Homo sapiens: one gene and its partners. The protein of the gene in region 5 purifies or fractionates together with the protein of the main gene of each other region. This does not show direct contact. Each region holds a gene or a part of one and is shown on either strand. Other genes may lie near its edges.

Region 1 (3,500 bases), on a different chromosome or scaffold from region 5:
GGAGTCCTTGCTGTGGCGTGAGGCTGTGTCTGGCGTCTGGGAGGAGGACTGTGTGGGGTCTGGGTTCCCCAGCCCTAATGACCCAGCTGGTTGAAGGCAGCAGATGAAAGGAGACAAATGACCACGCAAACCCTGGGTGGCCTCATGAACAGGTGGCGGACAAGGGTGATCCCTGTTGAGCAAGGTCCTGCACTGCGGTGGGTCCAAGGACTAAGCTGCCAGCATTCATTTCTGACTGTCACTTACCAGCTTCCTGTGCCATTTTCTCATCTGAAAACAGCTGGACCCATCTCATGGATGGGCGTGAGGATGGTATGAAGGAACAGGCATAGAGAGCTCAACCGAGCCTGCTGCAGAGTCTGTGCTCAGCAAATCCCAGCTGTTGCCAGTACTGTTGCTGTTGGAGGGCCCAAGAGGGGACCCTGGTGACCCCAGCCCTGGCTGCCTGTCCCTGGAGGGGCAGGTGTAAGAAGTGATGAAGCAGGGGCTCACAGAACTCAAATGCAAACAGGCCACTAGAGGGAGGAAATGCAATTTCTGCAAAGGGGTTTCATGGCCAACAATTACTGATGTCCGCTGAAGGCGAAGCCAGCCACAGGGATAAGGGGGAAGGCTAATGGACAGGCTTCACTCACAAGTGCAGACGCCTTGGAGTATTTGCTGAGAGTCAGGGATGGACTACAAAGCAGGACTGAGGTGGGAGGGGGACAGGACCCCAATTCCACATAGACTGGTCAAGAACATCTGTTTGGGGATGGAAGCCAGGCCCATCCCTTCACAGCATCTTTAAGAATCTCAAAAGAGAGCCACACAAAGGCCCCAACCAAGGCCCAAGGTGAGGGGAAGCGTTTGAGTCTGTTCCCGCTGGAAGAAGTGCAAACAAGGGACTACATTTGTATATAAATAGGACAGACTAGTGAAATAAAAGGAAGAGTTTGGGTCCCTAGAGATGTCCCAGGAACCTGGGGTGTTGTCACAGATGGTTCCTTGGGAACACTGATCCTACAAAATGTTTGTCCACACAGGCTAATAAAATCCTGAGCTGGGGAGAGAAGACAGTGTCCGGCTGGAAACCACACATCTCCACTCCCGGGTTGCTCTAGCCAGCTCTGGGTGTGGGCCAGACGCAAGAAGTTCCACCCATTAATCTAAACCTAGGGAACTCATTTTCCCAGCAGGCAGGACAAAAAAGGAAGTGTGGAGGGGTTTGCACACACAGTGGAGGGGTTTGCAGTGGGTTTGCACACACACGAAGGGGTTTGCAGTGGGTTTACACACACGGAGGAGTTTGCACACACATGTGGAGGGGTTTGCAGTGGGTTTGCACACACTGGGGTTTGCAGTGGGTTCACACACTGAGGAGTTTGCACACACATGTGGAGGGGTTTGCAGTGGGTTTGCACACACAGTGGAGGGGTTTCCAGTGGGTTTGCACACACACAAAGGGGTTTGCAGTGGGTTTACATGCACACGTGGAGGGTTTGCAGTGGGTTTACACACACGGAGGAGTTTGCAGTGGGTTCACACACTGAGGAGTTTGCACACACATGTGGAGGGGTTTGCAGTGGGTTTGCACACACACGGAGGGGTTTGCAGTGGGTTTACATGCACACGTGGAGGGTTTGCAGTGGGTTTACACACACGGAGGAGTTTGCAGTGGGTTCACACACTGAGGAGTTTGCACACACATGTGGAGGGGTTTGCAGTGGGTTTGCACACGCACGGAGGGGTTTGCAGTGGGTTTACATGCACGCGTGGAGGGTTTGCAGTGGGTTTGCACGCGCATGGAGGGGTTTGCAGTGGGTTTGCACACGCATGTGGAGGGATTTGCAGTAGGCTTGCATATACTGAGAGGGCCGCAGAGGCCCAGCAGGAGGTGTTGTCATATGCCTCCTGGGAGGAGGTCCCCTACTAGGCTCAGAAAAAAGGACCCAGCAGGTAGGAGCCTTACCTGGGTCAGCCTTACCTGTCTTCACTGCTGTGAGTGGGGAGTTGTGTGAATAATGACACCCCACATCTGGCAAAAGTACACTTTTTCAGTTCTGCCTGTGTCCCCGTCCAGGGAGCTTTTGTCAAATATCCACTGAATGTCCCCAGCATGATGGCTGCTGGGCAGACACAAAAGCCGAGGCCTGGAGGGGGGCAGGCTGAGGATGTAAGTGGGAAGGGTGGGCTGGAGAGAGGAAGGGATGGGTCCCCACCAACCCTAGAGGGACACAGCTGGCCCAGACAGAGCGGCGGTGTGGGGGGGACGGGGTGTCAGCAGATTGGAGCCTGTGTCACTGCCTGCAAATCTAGTGGATCTAGTGTTCAGCCCACGGCAGGCTCAGAATGATGGAAACACTTACAGTTCTCTGCCATTTCCTGACATTTTAAAGCCACCAAATGGAGCCTGTGCATAGAGGGCGTTGTAGCAGTTGATCCTAGAAAAGAATGGAAGAAAGCTCAGAGTCATCTGGAGAAGACCCCCTGGCTCCTGGCACTGCAGCCACTTAGCCCCCAGTGCAGGGCATTGTCTAATAAACAGTCTTTTGCCAAAGCTTCCTTGATGAAAACACAGGGTGCTCTCAACTTTTGTCTTCTCATTCTTCTCATCAGCAACTAAAATTTGGAAATCCTCAAGTACAGAGTGTGTTTCATTGGGATAGGAATGAAATGATAAGGGGAGAAAAAAGAAGAGAGGGCCAGGCATGATGACTTATGCCTGTAATCCCAGCACTTCGGGAGGCTGAGATGGATGGATCACCTGAGGTCAGGAGTTCAAGACTAGCCTGACCAACATGGTGAAACCCCATCTCTACTAAAAATACAAAAATTAGCTGGGCGTGGTGGCGTGCACCTGTAGTCCCAGCTACTGGGGAGGCTGAGGCAGGAGAATTGCTTGAACCTGGGAGGTGGAGGTTGCAGTGAGCCGAGAGTGTGCCACTGCACTCCTGCCTGGGGGAAAGAGCAAGACTCCATCTCAAAAAAAAAAAAAAAAAAAAAAGAAAGAAAGAAAGAAAAAGAAAAATCAGGGTGTAGAGGAATAAGAATTAGCTTTGAAATGAGACAGAACTGACCCCAAAGTTCTCCTGCTTCCTGGTTATATGATTCTGGGCTTATTGCTCAACCTCTCTGAGCCTCAATTCATTAATCTTTAATATGGGGATCACAAAACATAATCTGCAGAATTACTGATGAGGCAGAGACTAGTATCCACATTTTGCAGATGGGCATGAACTGCTTTTAGAATCAGAATGGAAAATAAAGTTGGAGGGGCAGTACAGCACAGGGGCCACAGGCACAGGTACTGGAGCCCTCTCGGCCATCTGCTAGCTGTGTGACCCTGGGCAAGTCACTTCATCTCTCTGTGCCTCAATTTTCTCATCTCTGAAATGGAGACATAATGGCAGCTACCTCAGAAGATGGTCATGAGGATGGAAGGAAGCACTGAGACAGGGCTTGGTATATAATATACAATGTAAACAATGAGAAACTCTCAGTTAATAGAAGAATAATGA
Region 2 (4,123 bases), about 32 Mb from region 5:
CATATTCTTTAATAGACACATAAACACATTTATTTCATATCTCATAAAAGATATTTATAATCAAAATAAATGAAACCATATATAGTTTGATGTTTCATATTTTATAGATAACCCTCTATCATAGGTGATATAAAATCATATATAGGTTTTTATATCTCTAAAGGCCTCTGGGTGACGCTGTGAGGCACAATAAATTCAGTGTGGGTTCAGGAAGTGGCAGGGCCTTACCCTCAGCCAAAGGTTGTGGGGTGCAGGCAACACATAAGTGGTGCCTGTTACTACAATTAATGGAGGATACTATAATTTATGGAGGGTAAAGGGGAGAAAAGTGCTTAGACAAGTCTAACCTCTTAGATTTCTGCCATTTGCATCTCCTAGCCTAGTCTTGTGAAGATCCGAAAGTCATGCCTAATTTTGAAAGGCCTACAACTGTAGTCCTCCTGCTTTTTAGAAAGAGCATTATTTCACTTTCCCATGAGTTGGCTGAACAGTCACTCTTTCACCAAACATCTGCCAATATGTGAGAGAATATGACTGTGTTACCAAGTCTACTGAACCTTGTAAGGAGCCAGAACAATAGATAAATTGTATACTCCATCCCTCCAAAATAATATACTGAGATTAGACATTAGGTGTTTAATCTGGATTCAGCCAACTACACATTTGCTAAGAATGTTATTCTGGTATTTGTCATGGACTTTTCAATCACAAGTGATTGAATCCCTATTTAAAATTTAAACTGGCTACTCTCACAATATTACTCAATAGTGCTTTGGAAGTATAAGCTCCAGCAAAGCAAAATAAGTGGTATAAATATCAGAGAAGGGAATTCTTTGCAGTTGACATTGTATATTGTACATCTACTGTATACTACAAAATAATAAGATAAGTTAGTAATGTGGCTGGATACAAGATACATATGCAAAAAACAAAACCTTAATTACCCATAGTCAGTTACATGTAGAAATGGAAAAATTGTCCTGTACCCAATAGTTTCAAAAATAATGAAATGCTGAGGAATAAATGTTAATAAGAAACAGAAAATGCTTATATAGTGAAAAATTTTATTTATGTATATAAAACAAGATCTGAATAAATAGTGAGACATACATATTCCTGAACAGGAAGACACAATAGCAAAAAAATGCCAATCCTTCTCAATTCATGGAAATCCTGTAACCCTACATGTAGGGCTCTAGTCAACTAAGATAAAAGCAAGAATATGGAAATATATTCATGTAAGGAAAGTATTAAAGAGTGTTTACACGGCCCTATTCATAAAGACAAAAAATGCAAAATGCCTAAATCTATATCAATATTAATTGGTTAAAAACTACATTGCATCCAAAGTAAAGTATTTTATGCAATTATTAATAGAACTTGTCAAATCTGTCTGTATTGGTCTATAAAGGTATTTATAATTTATTGGCAAGTGAAAAATGCAAAGAAAAGAAGAATATGTCCAGCCCAATACTAGATTTTATTTTAACAAAATAGGTGTGAGAATTTACATTAGATATTGTATATACCTAAAGTACTTTTTTAAAAACATTAAAAGAATGTTCACAAAACTAAGACCATTTCCTCTGGGGCGGGCATATAGAATTAACAAAAAAGGGAAGTTTCATTTCTTACTGTGGTTTTTGGTACTTTTCTAAACATGGTACTTAAAAATGTAGGCTGAATATGTTCCACAATTTTATAAGTTATAAATACATATCTTCAAGAAGGGCAGTTTTATAAAATTTGCTACTGACGAGTACACGCATTGGCACAAAATAATTTGTTAAACTGGAAAGAAATTTGAAATGAAACAAATGAAAATGTCAAATCACAGTTCAGTAAAGAATCCTTTTTTAATTTCCAAAGGTGAAGTATTCTTAAGGTGCTAAAGGAGAGATAACTTACCATAGGCAACGGCTTTCCCTGATGGCAGTTGATACCACCAATGAAGATCATGTTGGGCATCACGGGTTTGGGATAGTCCAAAACAAAGTCCGTTCGCAACAACCAAATTGATGTGTGGCTGTAGAGATCATACTCCGTAACAGGTGTTTGGAGAATTTCAGAGGCTATTTCTAGGGCATTTTTGAAAAAACGGTGGCATAATAAATGTTCCTCCAAGTGCATGATGTGGTTCCGTACTCTCTCCTTGAAAGTCATGGCATCTGAGAACCCTAAGAGAATTCTGGGGACATAGGAAAGAGGAGCAGGGCACTGTGCACCTTCTTCAAGATAGTGGCAAAGTATTCCCCTGGCGAAGACCACGGAGGGGAGGGAGAAATATTTGGCAACAATTAAGCCACAGTTATCAAAAGGATCGAGAAACACTGCATCAAAAGAACTCTCCTTTAAGTATTCTACTAATTTTTTGTCTTTAAACAAACTCCTGCAATTTGAAAAAAATAAGTCAAAAATGTCATTGTATGAACCCATTAATAGAGAATATATACTTCGTACTTGTGCTTTCCATTGAGCATGGGCAAAAGCCTTGAACTCCCGGTCCAGATCCTCCAGGGTATATGAAGTTGAATAAGTCTTCACTGTGCAATTCAGTGATCTTCCCAGTTGCCAACTCACCTCTGGCATGACTACAACCACCTCATGCCCCCTGAGAATGAGTTTCTCCACCACCGACCTCATGGTGAACCAGTGGCTCCCATCCATGGGCACTACCAGTAGCTTCCCTGCCTCGGCAAAGCCACAGGTCAGCAGCAGACACACACATAGAGGAAGGGGGCTGGTCCACCCTGTGCAAGCCATCAGAGAACTGCAGCTGAGAGCAAGCAGCTGGGAATCTAAGCTCCTATGATACAGTAGGTGGGAGAAATACCAGCACAAAACCTGACCCCAATAGAGGGCGTGTTTTTATCCTTTCATAAAAAAAAAATCAGTCACTGACAATGATTTACCCAAAAGAACAAGAATATATGAGTAGCTTTTGCTGAGATATCTATTTGTATGTTTTCCAGACAACAGTAGCTTATGGTCTTTGCCTTGGGGGCAGAACATGCCCTGTGCTGCAATGTTAAGTTTAGAAGCAGAATTATTAACCAATGCTTTTGGACCTTGAAGGTTCAGAAAGATAAAGTAAAAGTAAATTTGATTAAAGCTAATTTTTTTTGGAATTTGTCCCAGAGCAAAATTTAGATTTTACCTTTAGGCAACCAAATACTCTCTGTCCAGAGAAGATGGCAACTCATGCTCTAAGCAAAGAAAACAAGGCCCTTAGCACTGACCTCCTAACCTCCTAAATTGGGGCTCGCCTGTGTCTCTGCAATGCATACATATTGCTGCTTCTCTTCTTCCATTTCCAAACCCTGAGAAGCCTCTAAAATGCTGAAATGAGACTGACAACCCTGCTTCCATGGACCATACCAGGGACTTGATGGAAAGTAACCGTCTCCTATTTTAAATGGCTTTCCTAAGATACATCGCACGCAGTGGGAAGTTGCCCGCCCAATCCTTGCGAGAGCACTCTGCTGAGCTGCCTCTCAGTGACCGCTCAACTTGCACATTCTAAACACGCCATCACTCCAGTGCCCTCCTTCAGGAAAATATGTACTTGTCTCTCTCAGTCTGCTGAGCACTCCTTGAGGTCAGAGGTGATGTCAACTTTGTGTTTTCACCCTCCTTTCACAGTACCCATGCTATGCCTTTGACATAGTTTGTATGTTTGTATGTTTGGGTTTACAAATAGGACTGCCCCCATCCATAAGCCTGCTAGCCTCCAAGCCTTAAAGGGAAAAGATCAATACCCACTGCCAGTTTTTTTGTTGTACAAGAAGGCCTCGGCAAGAACACTTTTTCTGGATTGGTTCTATCATTACTTTGTCCCTGAAGTCAGGTAATATCTTGCCAGTAAGAGACGGTCTTTCAAAGTTCTTTTGATTTTTGGACAATGCCCCTAGCCACCCAGAACCCATGAGTTCAACACTGAAGGTGTCAAAGTGGTCTACTTGCCTGCAAACCCAACATCTCTAATTCAGCAACAAAAGGTGGGGGATATGGTCTTTCAAGATATGAATCTGTGAGAAATTCAAGAATGAATAGACACCACACCAGAGGAATCAACAGAAGATGACTTGATGGAGATGAGTGCTTTTGAATCAGTACCAGATAC
Region 3 (2,376 bases), on a different chromosome or scaffold from region 5:
TGATAGAGTACTTGGTATGTGAAAGTGATTTACTATTATTATTTATCCAGCAGCAAAAGAGGGCCTAGAGCATGGAAGACAGAACACTTGGTCACTGCTAATAATGAAGAAAAGAGGCTGCATCCCCTTTGGGTGGAGATGTGCTACAAATCCCTTTCCTCATCCAGGAACCAGGCAGTGCACTTACCTTAGCATCATATTCCAATACAGGAAAGGCATCAGGTCAGCTTTCATGAGATACATGGAAAGGCGCTCTTTGCTTTGATCAAAGGGGAAGGTTTCTAGCGGCTCTGCTTTGTAGTCAAACTCAGCAAGAATCACACGGTTGTAGCCGGTCACCAGTGGACATGATGTGTAGCCATCATACTAAAATTGTAAATCAGACTGAGTTGGAAAGTAGATTTTTTTCATGGTACTATATTAACACTATAGAATTTATTATTTGCTGTGAGTGCTTATATATTTTTTCTTTTCTGTATATTCTAGCTTTTTGTACTGTGAAAAATGTAAATTATATTACAAAAAAAATAGTACTAATGGCAAAAACAGAAATGCCCATATTGGAGACACTAATTAAAAAAGTGCAAAACTGGGCCAGGCGCGGTGGCTCACACCTGTAATCCCAGCAGTTTGGGAGGCCAAGGCGGGTGGATCATCTGAGGTCAGGAGTTTGAGATCAGCCTGACCAACATGGAGAAACCCTGTCTCTACTAAAAATACAAAAAATTAGCCAGGTGTGGTGGCACATGCCTGTAATTCCATCTATTCGGGAGGCTGAGGCAGGAGAATCGCTTGAACCCAGGAGGTGGAGGTTGCGGTGAGCTGAGATCGTGCCATTGCACTCCAGCCTGGGCAACAAGAGCAAACTGCATCTCAAAAAAAAAAAAAAGAAAAACAGAAAAAAAGAAAAGACAGAAAGTGCAAAATTGTGGGAAAACACTACTTTTACACAGAATGGAAGATGATCATTGAGACAGTGATTCTTACAAGGCATACAAACCTTCTTTGTTGGTGTTTGATTCTTCATAATTACAGAAATTGTCCTATCAAGTATTCCTGACTGGGCAGCTATAAGAGAAATGGGAAAGTCAGAAAAATGTAAGCATCAAGGTTTTCCATGAAAACTAATTTGCAAATAACTTTAATGTAAACAAGAAGATTCCATTTCCCATCCCTCAAGACTGTGACTAGAACATGACCTTCTTACTAATTGAAATTCTGACTACCGGAGGGGGTTCTTTAATTCATGGAAGGCCTGCGCATGTGTTTCCATGGGTTTGATACTAAAGAGCCGACTCCCTCCAGTGTGGCTGTAAGGAGGGACCTACCCCAAATCCACTGCCTCTCCTCTTGGGGTTGAGGCTGTCAACTTAGTCTGTGTGTCCACTTAGTCAGTGTTCTTGACCATGTGGGTTATCCCTGTGTCCCTGTTCACAGGCAGTCTGGATTGGTAGCCCCAGGCATTTCCAATAAGACAAAGCAGGCCTTCCTCTCTACCGGACTGTCCTGGCTGAGGCAGGACCAGGTGGATATAGATACAGATATAGATATAGATCTGTGGATATAGATATAGATCTATAGATATAGAGATACAGATATATAGATCTACCTGTATTTCCATCTCTCTGTCTCTTTCCTAGATAGACAGACAGACAGACAGAACGACAGACAGATACAGATAGATACATACATACATCGGGATTTGTTTCTGTTTTTCTTTGGCAAGAATGGGGAGACTGCCTTTTTTATTAGGAAAATGTTCAAATTCCATCGTTTTGTTTCATGCATCTCATCACACATGCTATTTTTTTCCCGCTGTATTTTTAGAGCAGATATCACATCAGTTCACTCATAAATCTCCTGTCTGTATCTCTGATGGGGAATTTTCTTAACACAAACCCGCAGTATTTTCGCACCCCCAAAATATTAGTAATAGTTTCTTCATATAATCTAAACCCAGTTTGTGTTCAATGTTGAATAATTAAGACTGCCCAGATGGGCATGGTGGCTCATGCCTGTAATCCCAACACTTTGGGAGGCCGAGGAAAGTGGATCATTTGAGGTCAGGAGTTCAAGACCAGCCTGGCCAATATGATGAAACCCCATCTCTACTAAAAATACAAAAATTAGTCAGGCATGATGGTACACGCCTGTAATCCCAGCTACTCAGGAGGCTGAGGCAGGAGAATCGCGGAGGTTGCAGCAAGCCGAGATGGCACCACTGCACTCCACCCTTGGGGATAAAGTGAGACGCCACCTCAGAAAAACAAAAAAAGACTACCCTTTTAAGGAGACAGCAGTTTGTGGCCGAGCATGGTGGCTTACGCCTGTAATCTCAGCACTTTGGGGGACCAAGGTGAGCAGATCACAGGAGTT
Region 4 (2,555 bases), on a different chromosome or scaffold from region 5:
CCTCAGCTGGAGTCAGAGACAGCAGGAAAATGGGTCCTGTGTAATTATGACTTCCAGGCCCGCAACAGCAGTGAGCTGTCGGTCAAGCAGCGGGACGTACTGGAGGTTAGAGGAGCGGGAGGCTGAGGGGCAGGAATTAGCCAGCCCTAGCTGCAGACAGGCTCTGAACCCTCTGTTCTTTACCACACCCAGGTCCTGGATGACAGTCGTAAGTGGTGGAAGGTTCGGGACCCAGCGGGGCAGGAGGGATATGTGCCCTACAACATCCTGACACCCTACCCCGGACCCCGGCTGCACCACAGCCAAAGCCCTGCCCGCAGCCTGGTGAGCCAGCGCAGACGCTGGGATCTTGAGGGTGGAGAGGCTGGGACCAGATCCTGGGAACAAGGGGCGTGGGGATCAGCTGTCAAGAGTGCTGGAGCAGGTGGTGACTGGGGGTTCAGAAATGCATCTCCAGAAAGGGGAGAGGCTGGGACTCTGAGTCCTCTCCCTAACCCAGGTACTCTCCTCTCCTTCCTTTCAGAACAGCACTCCTCCTCCACCACCAGCCCCAGCCCCGGCCCCACCTCCAGCTCTGGCTCGGCCCCGCTGGGACAGGCCCCGCTGGGACAGCTGCGATAGCCTCAACGGCTTGGACCCCAGCGAGAAGGGTGAGTGGTGGGGACGCCGGCTGCGGGGAGCGGTCCTTATCCTTGCTTTCCAGGCAGAGAAACGGGGGCTCAGAAAGAGCAAAGGGACTCCCGTCCCATTCTGGGGACGCTGGAGCGCCCCCCCGCCCCGCCCTCTGGCCCCAGGACCCCTCGCCCTGAGCCCGCACTCCCTACCTCCCGGTTTCCCGCCTGCAGAGAAATTCTCCCAGATGCTCATCGTCAACGAGGAACTGCAGGCGCGCCTGGCCCAGGGCCGCTCGGGACCGAGCCGCGCAGTCCCAGGGCCCCGCGCCCCGGAACCGCAGCTCAGCCCGGGCTCGGACGCCTCCGAGGTCCGCGCCTGGCTGCAGGCCAAGGGCTTTAGCTCCGGGTGAGTGGGGCCGGGGCCCTCTCGGCGCGGGTTGATACGGACGCTGGGAGCGGAGCGTTCCGATCGGCCGGGAGTCGGGGGGCGGCAGTCGTGGAGACCACAGGGAGCCGGGATTAGCCCGAAGTGAGGGTCTGTCTGGTAGCAACACCCAATGGCAGGCTGTGATTGCCATGTTTTTTCAGACTCCGACTGGATTCCTTAGGGAAATCCCGTACCCTTTGAAAGCAGGATGCGGCCACGCCCCCCGGGTGGCAACATTGTGATTGGTGGGTGGGGTTCAGGAGGTGTCGGGCCTGCCCCCGCTAGAGCTAGAATGCTGTTCTGATTGGACCATCGCCGGGTGGGCGTGACATGATTGTCCGGGCTGGGGCATCCGCCGACCGGCCTGACCGCGCCCGGGCTGCCCTCGCTCAGGACCGTGGACGCGCTGGGTGTGCTGACCGGGGCGCAGCTTTTCTCGCTGCAGAAGGAGGAGCTGCGGGCGGTGAGCCCCGAGGAGGGGGCACGTGTGTACAGCCAGGTCACCGTGCAGCGCTCGCTGCTGGAGGTGAGCCGGACCGCTGGTCCCTGGGTCTGGGTAGGGTTGGGATGACGAGGGCTCGGACGCCAGGACAAAGCGATTTCCACCCCGCCCTCCAGGACAAAGAGAAAGTGTCAGAGCTGGAGGCAGTGATGGAGAAGCAAAAGAAGAAGGTGGAAGGCGAGGTGGAAATGGAGGTCATTTGACCTGCCAGGCGCCCTTCGCAAAGAGTGACGAGGCCCCGTGGGAGAACGGACTCCTCAGACTCTCCCCAATAGCGGAAGTCGATCTTCTGAAGGATGGCCAATCTGCTCCGGCCCTGGTCTTCCCCCATCCCGGTGGACAGACTTAACGATCCTTGCTGCAGTCCCTCCGGAGAGGATCTGGACTGGCTGGGAGTGGGGAGGGCGTGGAGACAGTCTACGGAAAGCGCTAGCAGACCCCCGAGAGGGTGCAGTGGAGCCCTGAGCATTGTAATATGCGGCCCAGCCTATAAACAGCCTCCGTGCTTAGCAGATGGTGTGCCAACTGCTGTCCTCTACCCGGCTACCAGGGGGCTCAGAAACCTGCCCCTCGACCCAGTCACAGCCTCATGGAACCTGGAAAATGTTCCACCCTCTTTGGTTTCTCTCTGAACCCTCCTTTCCATCCCCAGGGTCCCAAACCAGGCTCCCTCCTGACCTCCTAGCCAGCCTAGTCCAGCTTGCCCCACCTTCACGTTTCCCTGGCTCGCGGCTGCTGGGCATGAGGCTTTGTGTCTCCCTTCCCGCCTCACCAACGTTCTCACTTCATTCCTTCCTGCGTCCTGGCCCTGCCCTTCTCCAAACGCTCCCAAGCGTTCAACCTCTGAGGTTTGCACCTGCTGTCTCTGCTGGCTGAAACGGCCATTCCCTGCCTGGCGAACTCCTGTTCAGCCTCCCTGGCCCAGCTCAAACACTCACTGTGGGGAAGCCTGCCCTCATCCCCGAAGCTAGTTTCCCAGCATCCACTTCTCCATTTTGTCCCCCACCTCCTG
Region 5 (3,500 bases):
ACCTGGTGTCAAATGGACTTGGGTTTGCAGCACAGGTCCACCAATCACTAGTGGTATGATGTTGGGTAGGTTACTTTAGCTATTTATTACTCAGTTTCTTGCAGGAAGAGGATAATAGTGGTACCTATTTCATGGAGTTGTTATGAGTATTCAACAAGAATATGTATATAAAGCACTTATCACAGAGTCAGTTTTTCAGAGTTCAACAAATGTTGACCATTTTTATTCCATTCTTCTTTTCCTGGGTAATGTCTTATTTACCATCAAGATAACTAATACTTTATAACATAAACATCAAGAAGCCAACATAGTGAAATGAATCATTAAAAATATAATTTATCAACCTTTATTGCATGAGCCATTTGAAATAAGATGATGATAGGATTGCTATGCATTTCAGCAAAATCCCAGAGAAATGGCACTTCCCTGGCCTTATTTTCTCCCACTTTTAACTACTTATCTTCTGTTCTTTACTGAGCACATGCTATATGCAGAGTATGCTGCTGGATGCTGTGAAGGATGAGAAGAGAAACCCATGTCTTTGTTCTATCATTTGCAGTCTTAACAGAGCACATGATTCAAGTTACAAGTGTATAAAAGACATAAACTAAGATGAGAGCAAGTTAGTCTCAGTGTGACTGATGGAGTCACTAGATTTTGAACTGAGCTTGGAAGGATAGGTTATGCAAACAAGCATGGAAAAAGCAATTCAGAAAATGAGTTTATAACTGAATTTGATACCCTTTTCAAAAGTCTTTCAGAGCCCCTGAGGAATACATCATTTTGAATTTAATTGGAAGGGCCAAATGGGCTATTGGTTTAGCCAGAGATTCATCCTGGTAGGATCAGGTGCATTCTGGGAGAAGGCATGGTTTTAAGTGTTTAATATAATGGAAACTGCATTAACTAATGTACTTATTAATGGTCTCCATGAAAGGATGATCAGATTTGGAAAGAGATGTATGGATAGGTTAAAGAGTATTTGTGAACGTAATAGAAATTCCCAGGTCACCCGCATAAGAGGAAGGTTTCCTTTGTGAGCTTGAGTTTGCCAATTGCTTAAGATTGGCTTTGCTTAGATATTGCCCACAGCCAAGTTTTTCAGGTTGACATTTAACTGTAACAGTGAAACCTTTTGCCAGGTTTGCTAACAGATGGTTCTCAGCATGGTTCAGAAAACCTGGATCCGTTTTCTTCTGTATGCTAAATGTTTCTTTCATTGCATATTTACGGAGGAATTGCCTCTCCATCACAGGTGTTTACAATTACATTTAGTAGTCAACTGTGGACTTTCTTGGTTTGTTTTATGGACTTACCTTACCGAATGCTTTGCTCGTGTAATATTAAAAACCACAAGAGGATTTCTGACACATTGGAGGTTGTTAGGAATCCAATTTCCAACAATGAATGTTTCTTTTTACACCACTATAAAAGCTTGGAGCCCTTGTTAAAAGAGCCCTCTCCCCTCAAGAAGATATGAGGCTTTATTCGAAAACTTTGGCACTGTCCCATTTTTCCTGTAAGAACTTTAAGGATGTGAGACCAGGGAGACAGGAGGTTAAATGAGAAGGGCTGGAAGGCAAAGTAAGAACAGCTGGAGTTCATTAGCTAAAATCCAGGGTCACTAGCTAAAAAGGCAACCGAAAGGCACGTGCAGGAAAACTGAACAAGTAATGCAGCCCTCTTTAAAAAGCCTTGAAGCAGGAATTGCTTTTCCTGAACAATTTGGCTGCCCTGATGGTATAGCAGCCAAAGATTTATTAAGTATGATTTTACTACATATATGGTCTCTTTCTATACAGGTAGAATACATGTGGCAATTTACTAGTCTGGTCATTTGGAGTACTATTTTCATTTGACCTTAACATGTGATATTATGAAACTAGCAAAAGTATGAACAGCACTAAGGAACATTTTTTTTTTTTTTTTTTTGAGACGAAGTTTTGCTCTTGTTGCCCAGGCTGGAGTGCAATGGCACAATCTTGGCTTACTGCAACCTCTGCCTTCGGGGTTCAAGCAATTCTCCTGCCTCAGCCTCCGGAGTAGCTGGGATTACAGGCATGTGCCACCACACCCAGCTAATTTTGTATTTTTAGTAGAGACAGGGTTTCCCCATGTTGGCCAGGCTGGTCTTGAACTCCTGACCTCAAGTGATCTGCGTGTCTCAGCCTCCCAAGGGAAATATATCTTAATACATGTGTCAGTGCTTTTCATACTTCTTTCAATCCTCTTAACAATCTTTAGAGATAGATATTATTAATATTATTCCACTATATGGTGGTGATTCAAACCAAATCTCTCTGATTCAAAAATTCATAGGCTTTCTACGCACCCACTGTAGAAATATTCATTTAGCACCTACTATGACCAGGTACTCTGCCGAACTGCTAGATACACAGCAATACACAAAATAGATGTGTTCCCTACCACCCTCATTCCTTTGCTAATTAAGAAAAGCAGAGGCCTTCATAGTGCCTTGGAAATCTCTCATAATTGACTCTAGAATTGTATTTTAAGTGTTGATTTTTACAACTAGGAGGAAATACTTTCATTTGAATAGGCTAATGTGTTATGTTTTTACATAGTACAACATTTCTTAGTTTTATGAAACTTTATAGCAATATCTTAATATAATGTGCATTGTTTTAAATATTTTTGTTCAAGTGGTCAACTTTTGGTTTAAACTGAGGACTTTCAGCCTGTTAATAGCATTTTTCTTAGGAAGGAGTCATATAACTAATCTTTTTTGAGGACAAGGCATATGACATAATCTCCCCCTTCCCCTACATAATGTATATTTTTAAAACCTTTATACCAACCCTAGGAAGTAAAATGTGCTATTTTTGTTGTAGAGATAAAGAAATTCTAGCCTCAGAGAGGTTAGTTAACTTGTCTGAGGTCACAGAGATAGTAATCAGAGTTGTTAGAATCCATTTCTATTCTATTTAAAATCCCTTCTACTTTATTATGATGAATTTGGAAATGCTTAACTAAAGTATTTATTGTTTAGCAACAGTAAAAATAAAAATAGAAATCTGTTTTTATTATACATTTTATATAAACATTAAGGAAAATGCAGAAGAAGTATTTTTTTAATCTTTAATTTTAGATTCAAGGGGTACATGTCCAGGTTTGTTACATGAGTATATTGCATGATGCTGAGGTATCTTGTCACCCAAATAGTGAGTATAGTACCTGATAGGTAGTTTTTCAACCCGTGTCCCTCTCCCTTCCTCTCCCCTTTTGGAGTCCCTGGTGTAGTGTCTATTATTCCCATCTTATGTCTGTGTGTTCCCAATACCCCCAGTTATTAGCTTTCACTTGTAAGTGAGAACATGTGGTATTTGTTTTCTGTTCCTGGGTTAATTCACTTAGGATAATGGCCTCCATCTGCATCCATGTTGCTGCTAAGGAAATGGTTTTTTTTTTTTTTTTTTTTTTTTGTGGCTGCATAGTGTTTTATGGTGCCAGTGTACAAATTTTCTTTATCCAATCCACCA
Region 6 (3,500 bases), on a different chromosome or scaffold from region 5:
ACGTGGACTCAACACTCCCAAAAGTGCTCAGAGTGAAACCCACACCGGGCCGCAGTCTGGGTTATCCTTCCAAACCAGTTTCTTTTCTTTTCTTGAGACAAAGTCTCTCTGCATCACCCAGGCTGGAGTGCAGTGGCACGATCTTGGCTCACTGCAACTTCTGCCTCCCAGGTTCAAGCAATTCTCCTGCCTCAACCTCCGGAGTAGCTGGGATTACAGGCACACACCACCATGCCCAACTAATTTTTGTATTTTTAGTAGAGATGGGGTTTCACCATGTTGGCCAGGCTGATGTCGAACTCCTGACCTTAAGTGATCCACCCATCTCGGCCTCCCAGAGTGCTGGGATTACAGGCGTGAGCCACCGCACCTGGTCTGTTTTTTGTTTTATGAGATGGGGTCTCACTTTGTCACCCAGGCTGGAGTGCAGTGGTGTGCAATGGTATAATCTCAGCTCACTGCAACCTCCACCTCCCAGGCTTGAGTGATCCTCCCACCTCAGCCTCCCGAGTAGTTGGGACCACAGGTACAACACTGAGCCCAGCTAATTTTTTTGGTAGAGATGGGGTTTTGCCATGTTGCCCAGGCTGGTCTCAAACTCCTGAGCTCAAGCGATCCTCCCGCATTGGCCTCCCAAAGTGCTAGGATTACAGGCATGAGCTACTGCACTTGGCCATATTATTATTATTTTGAGACGGGGTCTTGCTTTGTTGCCCAGGCTGGAGGGCCAGTGGCATGATCAAGGCTCACTGTAGCCTCAACCTCCTGGTCTCAAACAATCCCCCTGTCTTCACCTCCCAAGAAGCTGGGTCCTTAGGTTTTGAAGTCATAGCATCTGCCACATCAGCGGTGTTGGGGTCCAGGAGAAGCCCAGTTAGACTGGGCGGTGGGTGGTGCCTGGTGCAGAGTCAGCACTGCTCGGTGATGGACCAGGCAGATGAGTGAATAACTGATGAAAGAATGAGGGCAACAGTCCCTAGTGGGCAGAGCCAGGGCTTTGGCTGGAGCGACAGGGCCAGGGGACCTGATGGTCTTGTGAGCAGGACAGTGACATGAAGATGACTGTAGGTAACTGTGCCTGGCGCTCACTGCTGAGCTCAGGACACAGGCTCTTGTGTCATCCTCCCATCAATCATTCTTTTTTATTTATTTTATTTTTTTGAGATGGAGTCTTGCTCTTGTCTGCCAGGCTGGAGTGCAGCGGTGTGATCTCAGCTTGCTGCAACCCCCACCTCCTGGGGTTCAAGCAATTCTCCTGCCTCAGCCTCCTGGGTAGCTGGGATTGCAGGTGCGCGCTGCTACGGCCGGCTAATTTTTGTATTTTTAGTAGAGACAGGGTTTCGCCATGTTGGCCAGGCTGGTCTCGATCTCCTGACCTCAAGCAACCCACCCGCCTTGGCCTCCCAAAGTGCTAGGATTACAGGTGTGAGCCACTGCGCCCGGCCCCTCCTATCAGTCATTTTGTAGATGAGGAGACTGAGGGTCAGACAGTTTGCTCTGCCCCAGGTCATCCACAGAGGAACGAGTAGCGCCAGGACTGAACGCAGTTCTCTGGCCTGAGCCCAAGCATGTACCCACCACACTCTACTGCCTCCATGGGCGCAGAGTTAGGGTATCCTGGTAGAAGAGTCGGGCGGAACCCACCTGCCCAGAGATCCCTGACCCCGCCCCTCTTTAGGGCACAGCCCAGCGCCTGCAGAGCCTGGGAACGGAGAAGGAGACAGCCCAGAAGGAGTGCGAGGCGTTTCTGTCCACGCGGCCCGTGGGCCCCGCTGCCCTGCAGCTGCCCGTAGCCCTCAACAGCGTGAAGAACAAGTTCAGTGACGTGCAGGTTCTGTGCAGCCTCTACGGGGAGAAGTGAGTGCTCTGGGGACAGGGCAGCCACGCAGGGCAGCAGCGTGTGGCCCAGGGAGTGTCTGAGCCTTGCCTCCTCTGCGGCAGAGCCAAGGCTGCCCTGGATCTGGAGCGGCAGATCCAGGATGCGGACAGGGTCATCCGAGGCTTCGAGGCCACCCTGGTGCAGGAGGCCCCCATCCCTGCTGAACCGGGGGCTCTGCAGGAGAGGGTCAGCGAGCTGCAGGTAAGGGACCAGCCGGGGCCTCCTGGTGTCAGGGGAACCCAGCATTCAGGGGCGGGTGGGTGGACACGGCGTCTCCCCAGCCACGAGGGTGCACGGCTGCGTCCCCTCCTCCTGCAGCGCCAGCGGAGGGAGCTGCTGGAACAGCAGACCTGCGTGCTGCGGCTACACCGCGCGCTGAAGGCCTCGGAGCACGCATGCGCTGCCCTGCAGAACAACTTCCAGGAGTTCTGCCAAGACCTGCCTCGCCAGCAGCGCCAGGTGCGAGCCCTCACCGACCGCTACCACGCCGTAGGGGACCAGCTGGACCTGCGGTGAGCGACTGGGTCCTCGGGGCACAGGGTGTGGGCTGGTGCAGAGCCAGGCATTGCTGTCTACAAGCTGTGTGATCCTGGGCTAGTGACTTCACGTCTCTGAAGCTGTTTCCTCATCTCTAAAATGGGATAACAACAGCACTTACCTCCCAGGGTGGTGCCTGGTAGAGACTGTCCCATCTCTGAATTCCCAGGGTCAGGGAGTGGGGATCTGCACAGCAGGCCACTCGGGCCTCCTGACCTGCCCCCAGGAGGAGGCTCCCATCAGCCTCCCTGTGCACCTGCCCCTGTCCCCACGGGGCAGGTCTTATCTCTGTTCTGGGCCTCGTCCTCCTGCAGGGAGAAGGTGGTGCAGGATGCCGCCCTCACCTACCAGCAGTTCAAGAACTGCAAGGATAACCTGAGCTCCTGGCTGGAGCACCTGCCCCGCAGCCAGGTGCGGCCCAGCGACGGCCCCAGCCAGATCGCCTACAAGCTGCAGGCGCAGAAGGTGAGGCTGGGGCAGGGACAGCTGCCTGTGCCCATGTGGCCCCCTAGTGGCCAAAGCTCAGAAGCGCTCTAAGGGGCTTCAAAGCCCAGGCCACGGAGGCCCTGGGCCCCTTCCCTGGCCTCCAGCTGAAATGCTCCTCTTTGCCCACAGACGGGGCCAGCCCATCTCTGTCTGGCCCGACTGGGGCAGTGGGATTTACAAGCTCAGGCCACAGAGCCCTGAGGGTTCCGGCCACTTTCTCATGCTCATCAAGCCCCTGCCATGTACCAGGCAATGTGTTCACTGGGGTACAACCCTGCACCCTGGCAGCTCCCAGCCTGGTGGGGGAGGTCTGTGATGCCGACAAGCATTGGTGGGAGAAGCTGGAGTGCTGTGGGTGCCCCCAGGCTGGACACACTTGCGGGTCAGGATCGGTAGTGTGGGAGGAAGCAAGTGTAGCCGGGGGAGGGATGAAATGTCCCATGCAGAAGGCATGGCAGTCAGGGGAAAGGAGGGGGACTCAGGGGCGAGGGCGACCAGATGGGCAGACCACACAGGCCCTTCCGGCACAGGACCCAGGCTGCACTCTCTCCTGCAGCCCCCAGAAGCTGCTGGGGAGGGGATGCTTCCAGGCCAGTGT
Region 7 (4,053 bases), on a different chromosome or scaffold from region 5:
GCTTTCTGCTATCACTTTTTAATTTTTTTTTTAATTTATTACTGCTCCTTGCAGAGCAGGGCTACTCTATATGTAGTGTGTCCAGAGTAGCCTGCTATCAGTTTTGAGATGAGCTGCAGCACCATAATGTCTAGTTTAAAGAAACTGGCTCTTTACTGCTACTGTTCAAGGCATATGGTAGGTTTCAATTGTTCCCAGATTCCAAGGTGAAAAATGTAAGAAGCCCATATGGAATCAGAAAACATTTGTTGGTCTTACAATCATTCCCATATGCACCCACAACTAAAAACCCTGCAAAGATGAAGACAACACTTCAGGCTTTCAAAGATTAGCCTCTCCGCTACTGGTGTAACTACACCCAGTTGACAGACATTAAGTGAACATCAACACACGCCATGCATTAGGATGAAGAGATTAAGAGTCTAGTTCTAGCCAGGCATGGTGGCTCACGCCTGTAATCTCAGCACTTTGGGAGGCCAAGGCGGACGGATCATTTGAGGTCAGGAGTTCAAGACCAGTCTGACCAACATGGTGACACCCCATCTCTTCTAAAAATACAAAAAAATTAGCTGGGTGTGGTGGCACATGCCGGTAGTCCCAGCTACTTGGGAGGCTGAGGCAGGAGAATCACTGGGAGGCATAAGTTGCAGTGAGCCGAGATCACGCTGCTGCACTCCAGCTTGGGCGACAGAGCGAGATTCTGTCTCCCCAAAAAAAAAAAAAAAAAAAAATCTAGTCCTATCATTAGGACAGGTAATATGTATCCCACCTTTTAAATCTATACTACCTTCTTGAAAAACATAAAAATATCACACATCCTTCTATGATATTTGGTTCCACAGTAACCCAGCATAAAATTATAAGGCTATATTCCTTTCTAAATGAAACTAATTGGAGATTCTGATATGTAGCAAAACAAACTTCTCCAGCTACATCTCATATCCAATTCCACTGGATTATGGAAGATCCAACCAGGTTTTAAATGATTCTAGAGGACACAGGAAACTGATGTTACAACAATATCGGGTTTTTGCGTTTATTTCTTCTGAGAAAAGCTATCTAAAATCTAAGTCAAAATCTCAAAATCAATCCACAGTTAAAAGAAACAAGATGTAAAAGCAATCTGGAGGGATATTTAAGATGAAAAACAAAATTAAAACAAGGCCCAAATGATGTGGCCTATGGCTCCAAACATAAAATATCCTTTTACACTCCCTCCCCACAGCGTAAGTCAGACCTTCTGAGTGCTGGGGTTACTGATGATTATACTAGAATTGAGCTGAACTAAAGTAGAACCGAATAAAGGGCAAACTTACAAACTTAGGTGAGAAATATCTACAAAGGTAGACACAAAGAAAGCCTTTCTCTCTTCCCATAAGGTATGCTATCCCTGCCCCCTTCTTCACACAAAAATAACTGCAATTTTAAAATAAAGTTTAAAGAACACAAGCTGCTTAGGTGTCTCAAGTGCAAAGAACTACTGACACGGATAATGTTAACGACTTTCAACTGCCTCTCATCTAATAGTATCTGTGCAATAAAGTCCAAAACACATCTCAGAAGGAAAAATCTGTTAACTCTAGGAGCACTTCCATTTGTCTTAATTTTGTTGTTTATCTTGTCATTGTTTTTCATATTCATGCCTAAAACAGAGCAAATGTTAGTTAGCAGCAACCAGAACACATCATCCTACTGCAGCAGGTGGCAAGAGCATCCTCGGGAAGGTGGGGAGCTGCAGCAGAGGTGAGCAGTGAAAGCAGCTACTGATGCCTTAAGGCTAAGGCCATAGGGACAAGCATGACAAACAGGCACAACCTCACATTATTTGTTCCCCAAATCCCTCCTCCAGAGTGGATCAGAATAATCGTTTCTCTACCACTGGTCAAGGCCAGACGTGGGTTTTCAAAGACTCCATATACTTGCTTTGAAATATCCTTAGCTTAATCCAAAACCTATTTGTGGGAGGACTCTGTGAGTGCCTGCCCATTACACTGTATCACCTAAAGCTGGTCCCGAAGGTATTAGTAGGAGAGAGATGTGGGATTTCAGAACACCAAGGAAGCCTATTTTTTAAAACGTAGACAAAAAAAAATATGGAGGCAGGAAGGCGGGAGGCAGTGATCTATGAGATTTGAAGCAAGTACAGACTGAGCCCCAGTACTTAGCCAGGTCTAAATCACGGTTGTGAACGCTTTCTTGCACCTGAGCTGAGGAAGAAAAGTAATGCTACCCACTTCCCTTCTTTCCATCAACTCTATATGTGGCAGCAGGACACACCCCCTGCGAACCTACCAGCCTCCGTCTAAAGAGGATCTTGCCCATCCTTTGGCGTCCACCCTTAACCAACGCTCTGGAAACGCCTTGGTAGCCCAACTGTCTTCTCTCCCCCTCCTGACACCCCCCACTCACCTCTAGGCGGTCACAGCTGCCTCTCTGGCACCTCCAACTCCTCTGTCGTTAGAATACCTAGACCTCAACGCCCTCTCGCGTTCTCCCCTCCGCGACTCGCCTGTGTTCTCGGATCTTCTCAGATCCGCTACGGTCGGCCTCAGGTCCCTCACGAGGGAACCCCCGCCCGGCCCCGCTCACGGTGCCCCATCCTCCCGGGCAAAGTCCACGCCTACGTCCTGACCCAGAGCCCCAGCTCCTTCGGGCCTAGTCAAGGACACCGCCTCTGTCTGGCCCACACCCCGCCCGCGGCACCTCCGCAGCCCAGTTCTACTCCCCAGCGCGGGACACTCACCAAGCGTGACCGAGCGGCAGCAGAGGAAAGGGAGTGAGCCACGAAAGGACAGTCCGCGGCGCCTCCCCTTCGCCACCAGCTTTATAGCCGCCAACCCACCCGACTCCGGCACCGCCGAGAGTCGCTGGGAGGCGGGACGGTGGCTCCCACAGCCAATCGCGGCCGGTAGAGTTGCCCGGCAGCGCCCGCCCCCCAGTCCGGCTTCTACCAATCAAAAGGAAACTAGAGGCGATGACTCGCTAGGATTTTCCCTCGTGGCTGGAAGGGCGGGGAGAAGAGGCGGGGACAAAGTCTCAGGGCCGAGGAAGTGGTGTGAGAGACTGACGTGAGGTGGCACGAGAGCCCAGTTGCCAATGACGGAGCTGCGAGATACGGCGAGAGCCAACGGGAGCGGAGTGAGAGGTTCTCCGACCAATTGGGACTAAGTGAGAGGAGATGCGGGCCAATGGGTACTCCGCGTCCCACCGCTGGAGAGATGGTCAAATGTGGGAGGCGAGGTGGTCCCAGCTTGGGAGTCTGTCAGGTTGCCTAGCAACCAGAACTAGGCTTCACCTGAAAGATTTCTGAAATACTGTACTTGATTTGAATTCAGTCTTAACGTTTTCTAGCAAAGTGTGCGTAGATTGCAAATTGGAGCAGAATACTTCACCCAGAACTTGTATATGTGTAAATAGTCTAAATACCCGATTTGTAAATACTCAAATATTGTCTCCTTTATTCAAAACTACCTTGACTTAAAGAAAACAGAACAAACAAAAGTGCTCTTGAGACAAAGCTTTCTAACTAAACCTAAAACAAAATGGTTTCAGGATTAGGCATCCGTGGGGAGGGTGCAGAGCCTTGCCTGTGAAGGGAAGTTGATACTGAATTCAAGGATTTTTGCCAGGCCATGCACTCTGAGGAAAGGGACTCCATTTGGCCTGTTGCCCACTGTATCTTCTAAGCTTCATATGTGGTACCTGCCAAGTAAAAGGCTGTGGAAAGGCCACGTAATTGTCGGCATAGTAAATCCATCGGATACGGACTGCCTAACTCCCCCAGCAAATAGAGAGGAGCAATTCAAGCTAGAGGAATTCACTGAAACACTATTTGGGGGAATCCAAAGGAGGACACTTGTGGCTTTGCAATAAACTCTGCCTCTATCTGGTCAGAGAGAGAAGCCATAATACTTAGCTTTGGTGGGGGACCATGAGTGAGGTTCGGAGTTGTTTGTATCTCTCCCCATCTCAATTTAATTAACAGGAATGCTATTGATAAGGGGTCATTGGTAATTCTGTGATTCACACAATTATTGTTATGGGAGATTCTTT

Evidence for each region.
Region 1: the proteins of CDK15 (region 5) and ALDH1A3 purify together in Homo sapiens (affinity purification with mass spectrometry; 2 studies listed by BioGRID and IntAct, with this or other methods). This does not show direct contact.
Region 2: the proteins of CDK15 (region 5) and UGT1A9 purify together in Homo sapiens (affinity purification with mass spectrometry; 2 studies listed by BioGRID and IntAct, with this or other methods). This does not show direct contact.
Region 3: the proteins of CDK15 (region 5) and SQOR purify together in Homo sapiens (affinity purification with mass spectrometry; 2 studies listed by BioGRID and IntAct, with this or other methods). This does not show direct contact.
Region 4: the proteins of CDK15 (region 5) and EPS8L1 purify together in Homo sapiens (affinity purification with mass spectrometry; 2 studies listed by BioGRID and IntAct, with this or other methods). This does not show direct contact.
Region 6: the proteins of CDK15 (region 5) and EVPL purify together in Homo sapiens (affinity purification with mass spectrometry; 2 studies listed by BioGRID and IntAct, with this or other methods). This does not show direct contact.
Region 7: the proteins of CDK15 (region 5) and HMGCS1 purify together in Homo sapiens (affinity purification with mass spectrometry; 2 studies listed by BioGRID and IntAct, with this or other methods). This does not show direct contact.

Annotation. Positions count from the first base shown.
Region 1 is NC_000015.10:100,907,331-100,910,830, reverse strand, and holds part of ALDH1A3 (retinaldehyde dehydrogenase 3), read right to left. Parts: intron 2,424-3,500; coding exon 2,349-2,423; intron 1-2,348. UniProt on the Homo sapiens protein: Catalyzes the NAD-dependent oxidation of aldehyde substrates, such as all-trans-retinal and all-trans-13,14-dihydroretinal, to their corresponding carboxylic acids, all-trans-retinoate and all-trans-13,14-dihydroretinoate, respectively.
Region 2 is NC_000002.12:233,670,575-233,674,697, reverse strand, and holds the start of UGT1A9 (UDP-glucuronosyltransferase 1A9 precursor), read right to left. Parts: upstream 2,801-4,123; 5' UTR 2,764-2,800; coding exon 1,909-2,763; intron 1-1,908.
Region 3 is NC_000015.10:45,687,029-45,689,404, reverse strand, and holds part of SQOR (sulfide:quinone oxidoreductase, mitochondrial), read right to left. Parts: intron 1,069-2,376; coding exon 1,001-1,068; intron 367-1,000; coding exon 188-366; intron 1-187. UniProt on the Homo sapiens protein: Catalyzes the oxidation of hydrogen sulfide with the help of a quinone, such as ubiquinone-10, giving rise to thiosulfate and ultimately to sulfane (molecular sulfur) atoms.
Region 4 is NC_000019.10:55,085,869-55,088,423, forward strand, and holds the end of EPS8L1 (epidermal growth factor receptor kinase substrate 8-like protein 1), read left to right. Parts: coding exon 1-105; intron 106-192; coding exon 193-324; intron 325-523; coding exon 524-650; intron 651-845; coding exon 846-1,020; intron 1,021-1,434; coding exon 1,435-1,567; intron 1,568-1,659; coding exon 1,660-1,746; 3' UTR 1,747-2,055; downstream 2,056-2,555. UniProt on the Homo sapiens protein: Stimulates guanine exchange activity of SOS1. May play a role in membrane ruffling and remodeling of the actin cytoskeleton.
Region 5 is NC_000002.12:201,813,037-201,816,536, forward strand, and holds part of CDK15 (cyclin-dependent kinase 15), read left to right. Parts: intron 1-3,500. UniProt on the Homo sapiens protein: Serine/threonine-protein kinase that acts like an antiapoptotic protein that counters TRAIL/TNFSF10-induced apoptosis by inducing phosphorylation of BIRC5 at 'Thr-34'.
Region 6 is NC_000017.11:76,013,807-76,017,306, reverse strand, and holds part of EVPL (envoplakin), read left to right. Parts: intron 1-1,678; coding exon 1,679-1,857; intron 1,858-1,941; coding exon 1,942-2,080; intron 2,081-2,197; coding exon 2,198-2,391; intron 2,392-2,730; coding exon 2,731-2,881; intron 2,882-3,500. UniProt on the Homo sapiens protein: Component of the cornified envelope of keratinocytes. May link the cornified envelope to desmosomes and intermediate filaments.
Region 7 is NC_000005.10:43,310,613-43,314,665, forward strand, and holds the start of HMGCS1 (hydroxymethylglutaryl-CoA synthase, cytoplasmic), read right to left. Parts: upstream 2,801-4,053; 5' UTR 2,744-2,800; intron 2,570-2,743; exon of another isoform or gene 2,410-2,569; intron 1-2,409. UniProt on the Homo sapiens protein: Catalyzes the condensation of acetyl-CoA with acetoacetyl-CoA to form HMG-CoA, which is converted by HMG-CoA reductase (HMGCR) into mevalonate, a precursor for cholesterol synthesis.